Linked DNA regions of Homo sapiens: region 2 is reported to be linked to region 1. Evidence: microRNA targets listed by miRTarBase, many of them from high-throughput screens and not tested one by one. Region 1 holds a microRNA gene; the other region holds the end of a gene's coding sequence.
What was found. The annotated mature microRNA hsa-miR-1827 reads UGAGGCAGUAGAUUGAAU and lies in region 1 at 3,840-3,857, opposite strand. An mRNA with a match to its seed (bases 2 to 7 or 8) in the 3' UTR can be bound and repressed. Matches are read on the target gene's strand: a 7mer-m8 pairs with bases 2 to 8, a 7mer-A1 pairs with bases 2 to 7 and ends in A, and an 8mer does both.

Region 2: the mRNA of NMUR1 is a reported target of hsa-miR-1827. Seed matches in the 3' UTR shown: 8mer at 1,302-1,309.

Annotation. Positions count from the first base shown.
Region 1 is chr12:100,188,535-100,193,788 of GRCh38, reverse strand. It overlaps MIR1827 (microRNA 1827), which reads right to left and starts at 3,905; the gene lies at 3,840-3,905.
Region 2 is chr2:231,520,764-231,525,763 of GRCh38, reverse strand. It overlaps NMUR1 (neuromedin U receptor 1), which reads left to right. Exons shown (of 3, transcript NM_006056.5): 3 at 339-2,577. The coding sequence ends at 721. Among named protein-coding and RNA genes, the nearest start is that of NMUR1, 7.2 kb to the left of the region's middle.

The sequences.
Region 1 (5,254 bases):
GGATCTCATGTAATTTTCACATTTCACAAAATATTCTTTTAATTGTTTTCAGCCATTTAAAAATGTTAGCTGGGCACAGTGGCTCACTCCGGTACTCCTCCCAGCACTTTGGGAGGCCAAAGTGGGAGGATCACTTGAGCCCAAGAGTTCAAGACCAACCTGGGCAACAAAGTGAGACCCCATCTCTATAAAAATTTTAAAACTGGCCAGATGTGGTAGCAAATGTCTGTAGTCCCAGCTACTTGGGAGGCTGAGGCAGGATTGCTTGAGCCCAAGAGGTAGAGATTGCAGTGAGCTGTGTTCTCACCACTGTACTCCAGCCTGGGTGACAGGCTGTTTTTTGTTTCAAAAAAACAAAATAGCAAAATAAAAATGTTAAAACCATTCTTGGCTTGTAGATTGTACAGAAATAGGCAGAGGCTGGAAATGACTCCAGGCTGTAGTTCACTGACTTGCGTTCTAGGAAGGCCTCAGGAGCTTCCCACTCACTCACTCACTGTGTGTGATTAGGCACTAGGGATATGACTGGACAAGATAGTCCCTGTCCTTGTGGAGCTGTCAGTATCCAGGGAACAGATATTAATAAAATATAACAAACACCAACCAGTGCTAGGAAGTTTGAAAGGAAAGAGAGGCAGTACATGTATAGTTCAGGATCTTGATGTGGTTTAGGGGTTGGGGAGGGCTAGGAAAGACTTTCCTGAAGAAGCGACATTCCAGCTGAGACACAAAGGACGAGTTGGTGTTGACTGGGGGGCGTGGAGAGGGGGAGTAAAGTGTTCTAGGGAGAGGAAGTGGCATAAACAGAGGCCTTTAGGTGGGGGTGCTGTTTGCATGTGGGACTCAAGGAGTGCCTGGTGGCAGCTAGGGGTGAAGGGGACATAGCCTTTGGAAGAGGCAGGGCTTGGGTCAGGGCAGGATTTTGGTCTTTGTCCTAAGAGCTATGGAGTCAGTGAAGAGTTTTAAGCAGAGTTTGACAAATCGTTTCTTTTCTTTCTTCTTCTTCTCCCAAATTGATTGCCTTTGTTTATTTGGGCTGCTGTGATAAAATACCATAGACAAGGTAGCTTATGAACAACAGAAATTTATTTCTCATAGTTCTGGAGGCTGGGAAGTCCAAGATGAAGACAGCAGCAGATTTGGTGTCTGGTGGGGGCTCACTCTCTGTTTTAGAGATGATGCCTTGTAGCGGTGTTCTCACAGCAGAAGGGACAGACAAGTTCCCTCTGGGGCCTCCATCTATGTATACATATATATGTGTGTATATATCCATGTATGTATACATATATATGTATGTATGTATCTAGCTACCTAGCTAAGTGTATTTTTCTCCTGAAATCCCTTTTACCACTCTGGCCTCTTCTATAAGGACCCTGATCTCATTCCAGAGGGGTCTGCCCTCATGACTTAATCACTTCCCACAAGGCTTCACTCTTACTACTATTATCTTGGGGACTAGGTCTCAACATAGGAATTTTGTGGGGACACAGACATTCAGACCGTGGCACTGATGATGGTTTAGTCATGCCTAGTATTTTTATTTAACTAGGTTGGAGGATTATCTTGTTTGTGTATGAAGGGTTGAAGTATTTATATGTTATGTACTGGCAAACATTTAAAAGTAGATAAATGCAAAGCTGAACCTATTTGGAGCAGTTGCTTCTTAATTGTTTCTGAGTTGGGGGTGCTGTGATGGATGAAGCTCACTTTGGCAGGTATGTGTGGCTGGGGCCAGCCCCACCCCGGTGGACTTCCTTTCCTGAAGGATTCCTAATGGCCCTTAGCATTGACTTCTCTCCTGCTGCACTTGCTTTGCTTGTATGCACATTGCCAGTTTCCTTCCACCATGGAGATAACAATTTCTTGAGAAATGAAAGGAGGGGTCAGATGCATTCGGGGTGGAGGTGTACCAGCTCCCACCTCACTGAGGCATCTGATGAGGGTAGACAGGTGTCCTTGGTCAGACGCTTTTACCTTTGAGGCACTGGGGTGCAGACTTCCCACCTCCAGTCAGAACAAAATATAGACAGTAACAACCCCTTCCTCTAAAGAAAGAAAAGGACCCTGCCATTGTATCTCAGACTGGGAGAGGGAAGGGCATTTTCATTAGCAATTTTCAGTTCTGGTATTTATGTAGTGGGGTCTTAATGATATTTGATTGGGTGTTTACCTATATCGTATCAGGCTAGCCCTCAGCTGGGTTTCGTTTACTTTCACAGAATGAATGTATTGTGGAAATGGTAAACTAGGTAGTCGTGACTAATTAGTGGCTTCTAACTAGTGTTCTGTGAAATACTCTGCCTAAAGTGCTCAGTTCAGTAAACATCCTGAGCACTCGGTTGTGTGAGACCATCTGAGGGGCAAGGAGCTGAGAGGATCCCTAGGGAGACTGTGGCTTTCATGATTGTCCAGTAGGCAGTAGCTCACCAGCCAGCACAGGGGGCCCTCAGTCGGCTAGAGATTCAGGATGGTTTTGCTCCCTGATCTAGTCTTTGAGCATCTGCTGTTGTGTCCTACTAGAGCATCACCTCCTAGGAGGAGATTTTGTCAGTATAGTTCACTACTGTGCCTTTCATGCTTAGAGGATGCCAGATGCTTATTGCCTAACCCAAGCTTTAAGCCCTCATATCCTCTTGGAGTGTGTGTGTGTGTGTGTGTGTGTGTGTGTGTGTGTGTGTGTGTAAACCTCTCCCTCTCTGGATCAGTGAGAGTGTTGTTAAGGTTACAAATAAGAAATGCCTAGCACACTGCCTGACTGATTGTAAGTGCTCTGTAAATGGTGGCTACACACCCCAGGCCTGCTGGCATTGCTGCCACTGTTGCCCCTCTGACTCTTTTGAGCCAGTAGGTGAAGTGTGTCTCCACTCCCTTGGGTGGAGTGGACAGGGTGCCTTTCTCAAGGGCAGTTGTGAGGGCTGAGCTGGCCGGGAAGGTGTGCTCTTCCTTCCAGGCCTCCCTCCCACAGGTCTTCTGCGGGCCCTGCAGTTGGCCCTGCTCTGACTCTTAGTTTTTGCTTCATTCTTGACCCACTCAGGCCTGGTAGAAAGAGTTATCTGTGAGCACGGCGGGGGTTCCCAAGAATCTATTATGGTTTTAGTGTCTAGGACTCTAAAGTCGTGACAGTGACTCGTCTCTTCAGCCCCTGTTTGCAGCAGAGGGCGCAAACCAGCTCAAAGCAGGCACACAGATGTTTGGTGAATTGGGAGAAGTTGTTCCTGTCCAGGAGCCATAACGTGGTATTTGTAATTTTCCTCGTTGGAAGGCATGGCTCTGTCTGCCAAGAAAGACAAGGCATGTAGTCACCATGCTGCTGCCTCACAGTGACATTTTTAAAGCCAGACCTTCTAGAGAAGGAAGCAGGAAGGAAGGCGACTTGCTTTTGGGCCCGTGGAGTTTCAGCAGTTGCGGGAAGTTGGCTGGGCTGTGTGTGTGTGTTGCTGCATTGGTGCCTGGTCTTCTTTGATAGCTCCCAGGAGCATGAGGTTGTGCTTAGCAGTTGTGTCCCATCAGTCCTCTTGGTCTCGATCAGTTCACACGCTCCCAGGGCCCCACGTATCAGAAGGGCCGCCGTTGCATAACACTGTCCATGGAAATCACTGCAGTCATGAGAGGAGCAGTGGCTTTGGCCTGTAGACTCAGAGACCTTTCACCATGACTCAGCATGGGAAGCGGAGGCTCAGAGAACTTCAGCCTGTCTTGTCCAGGGCCACCAAGGGAGCAACTGAGCCATGTCTTCTGTTATATTTAGAGTTGGGGGCTGAGGAGGGGCGCCTATCTGCATTCTCTGCCGGTCCTGGGTCCACCTGTTGCAGGGACCCAATTCTAAGGGACCTGAATCAATTCAATCTACTGCCTCAGCCTTTCAGAGGCTTCTCATTGCTTTAGGCTGAAGGCTGTGCTGCTGAACATGGCCTTCAGGGTCCCATGGGGTCTGACTCCTGTCATTTCCTCTGTTGCAGGCCCACTTGACTTCTTGCAGTTCTTCAGATGTATTGTCTTCCCGACAGGCCCTGCCTCAGGCTGTCCCTTTGCAGGGCGGGCTGTCTCTTCTCTGGTTACTTCTGTTCGTTCTTCAGAGAAGCCTTCCCTGTTCCTCCCATTCCTCACTGCCGTGCTTCTCCTTCACAGCCCTTACCACTGCCTGTAGTTACTGTATTTCTTTGTGTACTCATCTGTGGTCTAGCTCCCTTGCAAGGCTGGGAGCTCCATGGGGCAGGGACCCTGTCTGTCTTGTCTCTGGTTTACCCCAGTGCCTCACACGGCCTGGTACATAGTGGGTGTCCAGCATCGACTTGAGGAAGAGTGATGAGGGAAGGCTCCAGACCCTTTCAGGGGCAGAGTTGCTCTACTGCTCCTGCTCCTGCTGCTTGGGGCTCATCATCCTCTGCCCTGCACACCCGTGGCAGGGGGGGTCTGCCCACACCCACCTGCCTTTGTGCCACACTCCCTTCCCTAGCAGGACGATGGTTCCTCTCAGCACTGTCCTTTTTGTTTGGCCTCCTGGTGGGAGGTGAAGCCAGCTGGACTTCCTGGGTCGAGTGGGGACTTGGAGAACTTTTCTGTCTAGCTAGAGGATTGTAAACACACCAGTCAGCGCTGTGTCTAGCTAAAGGATTGTAAATGCACCAATCAGCACTCTGTAAAAACGCACCAATCAGTGCTCTGTGTCCAGCTAAAGGATTGTAAACACACCAATCAGTACTCTGTAAAATGGATCAATCAGCACTCTGTAAAATGGACCAATCAGCGCTCTGTAAAATGGACCAATGAGCAGGATGTGGGCAGGGACAAATGAGGGAATAAAAGCTGGCCACCCCACCCAGCAGCGGCAACCTGCTCGGGTCCCCTTCCATGCTGTGGAACCTTTGTTCTTTCGCTCTTCATCATAAATCTTACTGCTGCTCACTCTTTGGGTCCGTGCCACCTTTAAGAGCTGCAACACTCACCGCAAAGGTCTGCAGCTTCATTCTTGAAGTTGGCGAGACTAAGAACCCACCAGAAGGAACCAATTCTGGACACTGGGAAGGATGTTACCTTCGGACACAGTGTTGTTCACTTTTTTGACTGGGAACCGACAGCAGATAATACACCTTTGTATGTAAATGTATACTGTCAGTATGTACATAAAACTGAAAGAAAAATGTCACTGCTACATATAGTAAAGCTAAGTACTATTTTCTCTTTTAATACTAAAAAAAATGCTTGTCCCCTCAAAATTGACTTCTTATCTTCTTAATTTGATATCCTGGCCCAC
Region 2 (5,000 bases), not on the chromosome of region 1:
CTCAACAGCCACAGCTAAGTGTCACCCAATTTCATATTCCAGGGTGAGAGAATCTGATTGGGCCGGCTGGGCTTAGGTGTCCACACCTGGTCCAGTTGGCTGTGGTCAGAGGCAGGGATATGCCCCATTGCCCACAGTCAGTGACCATGGTGAGGGCAGCCTCTCTGAGAGAGGCATGGCCAGAACAGGCAAATTTCCAGAAACTTCCACCTGGGTGATAGGTGAGGGTGGCCTGTGGGATAGGAGAGGATGTGAAAATGGGTGACCCAAACTGAAGCCCGGGAAGGCAGCTGAGGGGCCTCGGGCGGGCACTCGGCCTCCCTTCTCTGTCCCTGCAGTTGTCCTGGTCGTGGTGTTTGGCATCTGCTGGGCCCCGTTCCACGCCGACCGCGTCATGTGGAGCGTCGTGTCACAGTGGACAGATGGCCTGCACCTGGCCTTCCAGCACGTGCACGTCATCTCCGGCATCTTCTTCTACCTGGGCTCGGCGGCCAACCCCGTGCTCTATAGCCTCATGTCCAGCCGCTTCCGAGAGACCTTCCAGGAGGCCCTGTGCCTCGGGGCCTGCTGCCATCGCCTCAGACCCCGCCACAGCTCCCACAGCCTCAGCAGGATGACCACAGGCAGCACCCTGTGTGATGTGGGCTCCCTGGGCAGCTGGGTCCACCCCCTGGCTGGGAACGATGGCCCAGAGGCGCAGCAAGAGACCGATCCATCCTGAGTGGAGCCTTAAAGTGGCTTCACCTGGAGGGGCCAGAGGGTCACCTGGAGCTGGGGAGACACATCTGCCTTCCTCTGCAGGGATGCCTTCACGTACTGTCCCTAGTTCAGCCTAGAAATTCTGACCAGCACCTCAGTTTCCCTCAGAGGGAAACAGCAGGAGGAGGGATCCCTGACTGCTGAGGACTCACACTGACCAGACGCCACACCTTGTGCTTCTTATCTGTCCACTGCCACTCCCCCAGTTCAAATCCTTACCCTGCAGAAATATCACAGTTAGCTGGGGCTCAGCAGTCCTCCCTCTGGGGACTCCCTGCCACCACTGCCAGTTTCTGAAACGGTCCCACTGGGTCCTCACTGTCCTTCCCAGTTCCTGTTCAGGTTCTGGCAGGGGCCCAGGGATCCAGGGGACCTGGTTCCAATCTCAGCCCTGCTGTCACCACCTTGTCATGCACCATCAAGCATATCAGTCTACCTTTCTTTTTTTCTGAGACAGAGTCTCACTCTGTCGCCCAGGCTAGAGTGCAGTGGCGCGATTTTGGCTCACTGCAACCTCCGCCTCCGGGGTTCAAGCGATTCTCCTGCCTCAGCCTCCCGAGTAGCTGGGACTACAGGTGAGCCCCAGCATGCCCAGCTAATTTTTTTTAATTTTTAGTAGAGACGGGGTTTCACCATGTTGGCCAGGCTGGTCTCAAACTCTTGACCTCAGGTGATCCGCCGACCTCGGCCTCCCAAAGTCCTCGGATTACAGGCATGAGCCACCACACCCGGCCAATCAGTCCACCTTTCTAGGCCTTGGTTCCTTGCCTGAAAAATGAAAGAGGCGCTGGCTTTCCACAGTGTCATGCTTTGGCACTTTAGCTATGGTTTTCTTTCTGTGTGTGTGTAAGCCACTGCTTATAATAAAACCAACAATACCCTCAGACTGAAAGGGCGGAAGTTATTATCTGCATCTTTATCAACCCCAAGCCCCACTTCCTCCCTGACCTCCCCATGCCCTCCCCAGCCTCTCCCAGCACAAGTGGGGCAAAGCCAGCATGCAAGCAGACCCCACCACCACAGCCCACCTCCGTCCTCACATACGTGCAGGCTGGCTCGGGAGTCCAGTGAGCAGAGCATTGGACTTGGCTGGCCAGAGGGTCTCTGAGGGCAAGAGACATGGCCAACCAAGGGCAAGGAGTGACCCTGTGGAGGGTTCTGCCGAACTCAATGCAGTGAGAAGAGGGACAGGGACAAGTAGTCCTTGAAACTGAGCCCCATTCTGAATCCCTGCAGGCCAAGTCATTGCTCAGCCAGGACTCAGTTCATGGAGGAAACTTGTCCTGCTGCAGTCCCTGAGTCTTGTCCTCCTGAGAGGAAGCCCTGGCTTCCAAGGCTGGGAGCTGGAGGATGACCTTCGGTCGGTCTGTCTGGGTTCTCCCTGCAGACAGCTTCCTAGCTCATGCCCATAGCTCATGCTCCCTGCCGAGAAAGTGGAGGACGTGGTACAGGGTTGCAGATGTTTAGTTTTAAAAATTCAATTATAAAAATAATAAATGCTCATGATAGAAAATTTGGAAAGTGCAAATAAGCAAAAATGAAAACAATTTTAAAAATGTAAAACCTCTCTTGCCAGGGAATGGGGGAAGGGCAAGTGAGGAGTTCTTTAATGGGTGAAGAGTTTCAGTTTTGCAAAATGAAAAAGTTCTGGAGATCAGTTGTGCAACAATATGAATATACATAACAATACTGAACTATACACTGAAATGGTTAAGATGGTACATTTTATGTTATGTGTATTTTACCACAATTTTTATAAAAAGAGGATTAAATCTAAAGGAAAGAAAAAATTAAAACCACCCATAACTTTACTCTGAAGCAGTAACAGTGGCATGTTTCCTCCTAGTGATGTGTCATATGGTGGTTTTATTTTATATACACAATACACATAGACAATTTTGTATCTGGCCTTTTGTCCAGTGGATGTTCTATCCAAGCTCACGCTTGCACTCATTTGACTCATGGGATCCACTCTGATGGGCCTTGGCCAGCCCTGGGGGAGTAGGACTTGCATAAACCATCTGGGTGAATTCCCAGATGCTGGCCAGGAAGGCCTGGATGCCCCCTGCCTACTAAGTCCCTGGCTCGGGGGAGGAAGAGCCGTCCTGCCTGTCAGTCCTGCCCAGTGGACAAGTTCTGGGAGAAGCACAGGGGCTCCCGGACAGAGAGCAACAGAGGCTGGGGGTGGGGAGTGGGGACACTGAGGACAATGGGAGAAAATGGGAGAAGTGGGGACCTCGTGGAGGCCAGAGAGTGGATGAGGGAGCTGAGGGGAGGCTGGTTGGCGGAGGTGGTTTCCTCAGTGGGGGGCCCTGAGCCTGCCCTGACTTGAATGCACAGTCAAGCCCTGAGTGGGGACAGCTCCTAAGAAGTGGGCCTTGGGGGAGGGTGGGGGATAGGGGAGGGGAGTGACTGCAGGGACAGGGAGATTCTGCAGAGAAAGGAGCCTGTGAAAAGCTGTGCAGAGCCGTGAGCACCTGAGTGCTGCCCCTGAGCTCCCAGGGAAGTAGCCTTGGGGTGGGAGGGGGAGATGCCGGATCCCAAACTGCAGGCTGGACCCTGAAGTTGTTTCTCAAGACCAGCTCTGGACTCCCAGAGGCCTGCTTCAACCACAGTCAGAGGCACCTCATGCTCGAGGCACCCTGGACAGCATTATGAAGGGCCTCCATGTGCAGGCAGCAAGCAGACGGGCAGTGGGGTTGTTAGAAGGGTGCCCTCTGGGCCGGGCATGGTGGCTCATGCCTGTAATCCCAGCTCTTCGGGAAGCCAAGGCAGGTGGATCACCTGAGCTCAGGAGTTCAAGACCAGTCTAGGCAACATGGTGAAACCCCCGTCTCTACAATACACACACACAAAAAGTAGCCAGGTGTGGTGGCATACACCTGTGGTCCCAGCTACTTGGAAGGCTGAGGTGGGAAAATCACCTGAGCCCAGGAGGTCGAGGCTGCAGTAAGCCAAAATTGTGCTACTGTACTCCAGCCTGGGCAAATTGGAGTGAGGCCCTGTCTCAAAAAAAAAAAAAAAAAAAAAAGAGAAAAAAAAAGAAGGGTGCCCCTTTGTGAGCACCATGTATGTCTCCGCAGCACGTCAGCAACAGGTCCTGTCAGTCACTGGTTCCCATGGAAAACGGGAATAGCAGATCTGAACTCACCCCTTGAGAAACAGGGATGGCAATGGAAAGGGCAGAAGCAAGACCTGGCAAAAACACCGGTCATGCTGGGGCTGCATTCTCCTTGGTCCCCAGTGCTACTCCCAGGTCAGGAGGCCTCCATGCTTCTCAAAGTATCTAGCTCATCTGGGGCTCAAGTCACCTCCCCTTCCGACTGAGGTCACCATATCCCTCCTCCTCCTGTGGAGTTCAGGCCCTTTCTACTTCCCCTCTTCTCCACTCCTGCTGCTTTCCTGGGTGACGTCAGAGTCCATGGGTGACCCCACTGCTGCTCTGGGTGCCAGCTACTGATGGTTCCTGCAGCTCTGGAGACCCCACCCCAGTCTCCTAGCCCCTTGGTCACATCCTCACTCCCTGTGCCTCCAGGTGCTCTCCCATTTCAGAAAGTGTGAGCTCTTGACTGCTACTGCCTCTATCCTGCTCTCTGCTCCTATGACACATTTATTCTTTTATTTTTGTTTGAGATGGGGTCTTGCTTGGTCACCCAGACAGGAGTGCAGTGGCACAAACATGACTCACTGCAGCAGTCAACCTGCTGGCCTCAAGCAATCCTCCCACCTCAGCCTCTCAAGTAGGACCACAGGTACACATCACCATGCCTGGCTAATTGTTTTTCTTGTGTTGTAGAGGCACCGTCTCGCCATGTTGCCCAGGCTGGTTTGAAACTCCTGGGCTCAAGCAATCTGCCCACCGTTGGCCTCTTAAAGTACTGGGATTACAGGCGGGAGCCACTGCATCCGGCCATATTTATTCTTTAACCTCATCTAGACTTCCAGGTTCTAGACGGCTTTCTCCCAATCCATCAGCCTCCTCTGAGCTTCACTTCTTTTCTGATCCCACCATCAGTTCATCTACCCTACTCTGCCAGCGTTCCTGAGGGTGAGTACACTGGAATAATTCTTCCCTTCTCAGAAAAAGGCTTAATTTCCTTGAAAATTGAAAGTCCAAGATTAGTCTCATCAACAAACAAAGCTGCATATGCCTACCCTTCCTTCTGTTAGGCATCTACTCAGCAAAGGTAAAGTGTGTAGCACTACACATCTGTTCTCTTCATTACCAGGTGGCATTTCCA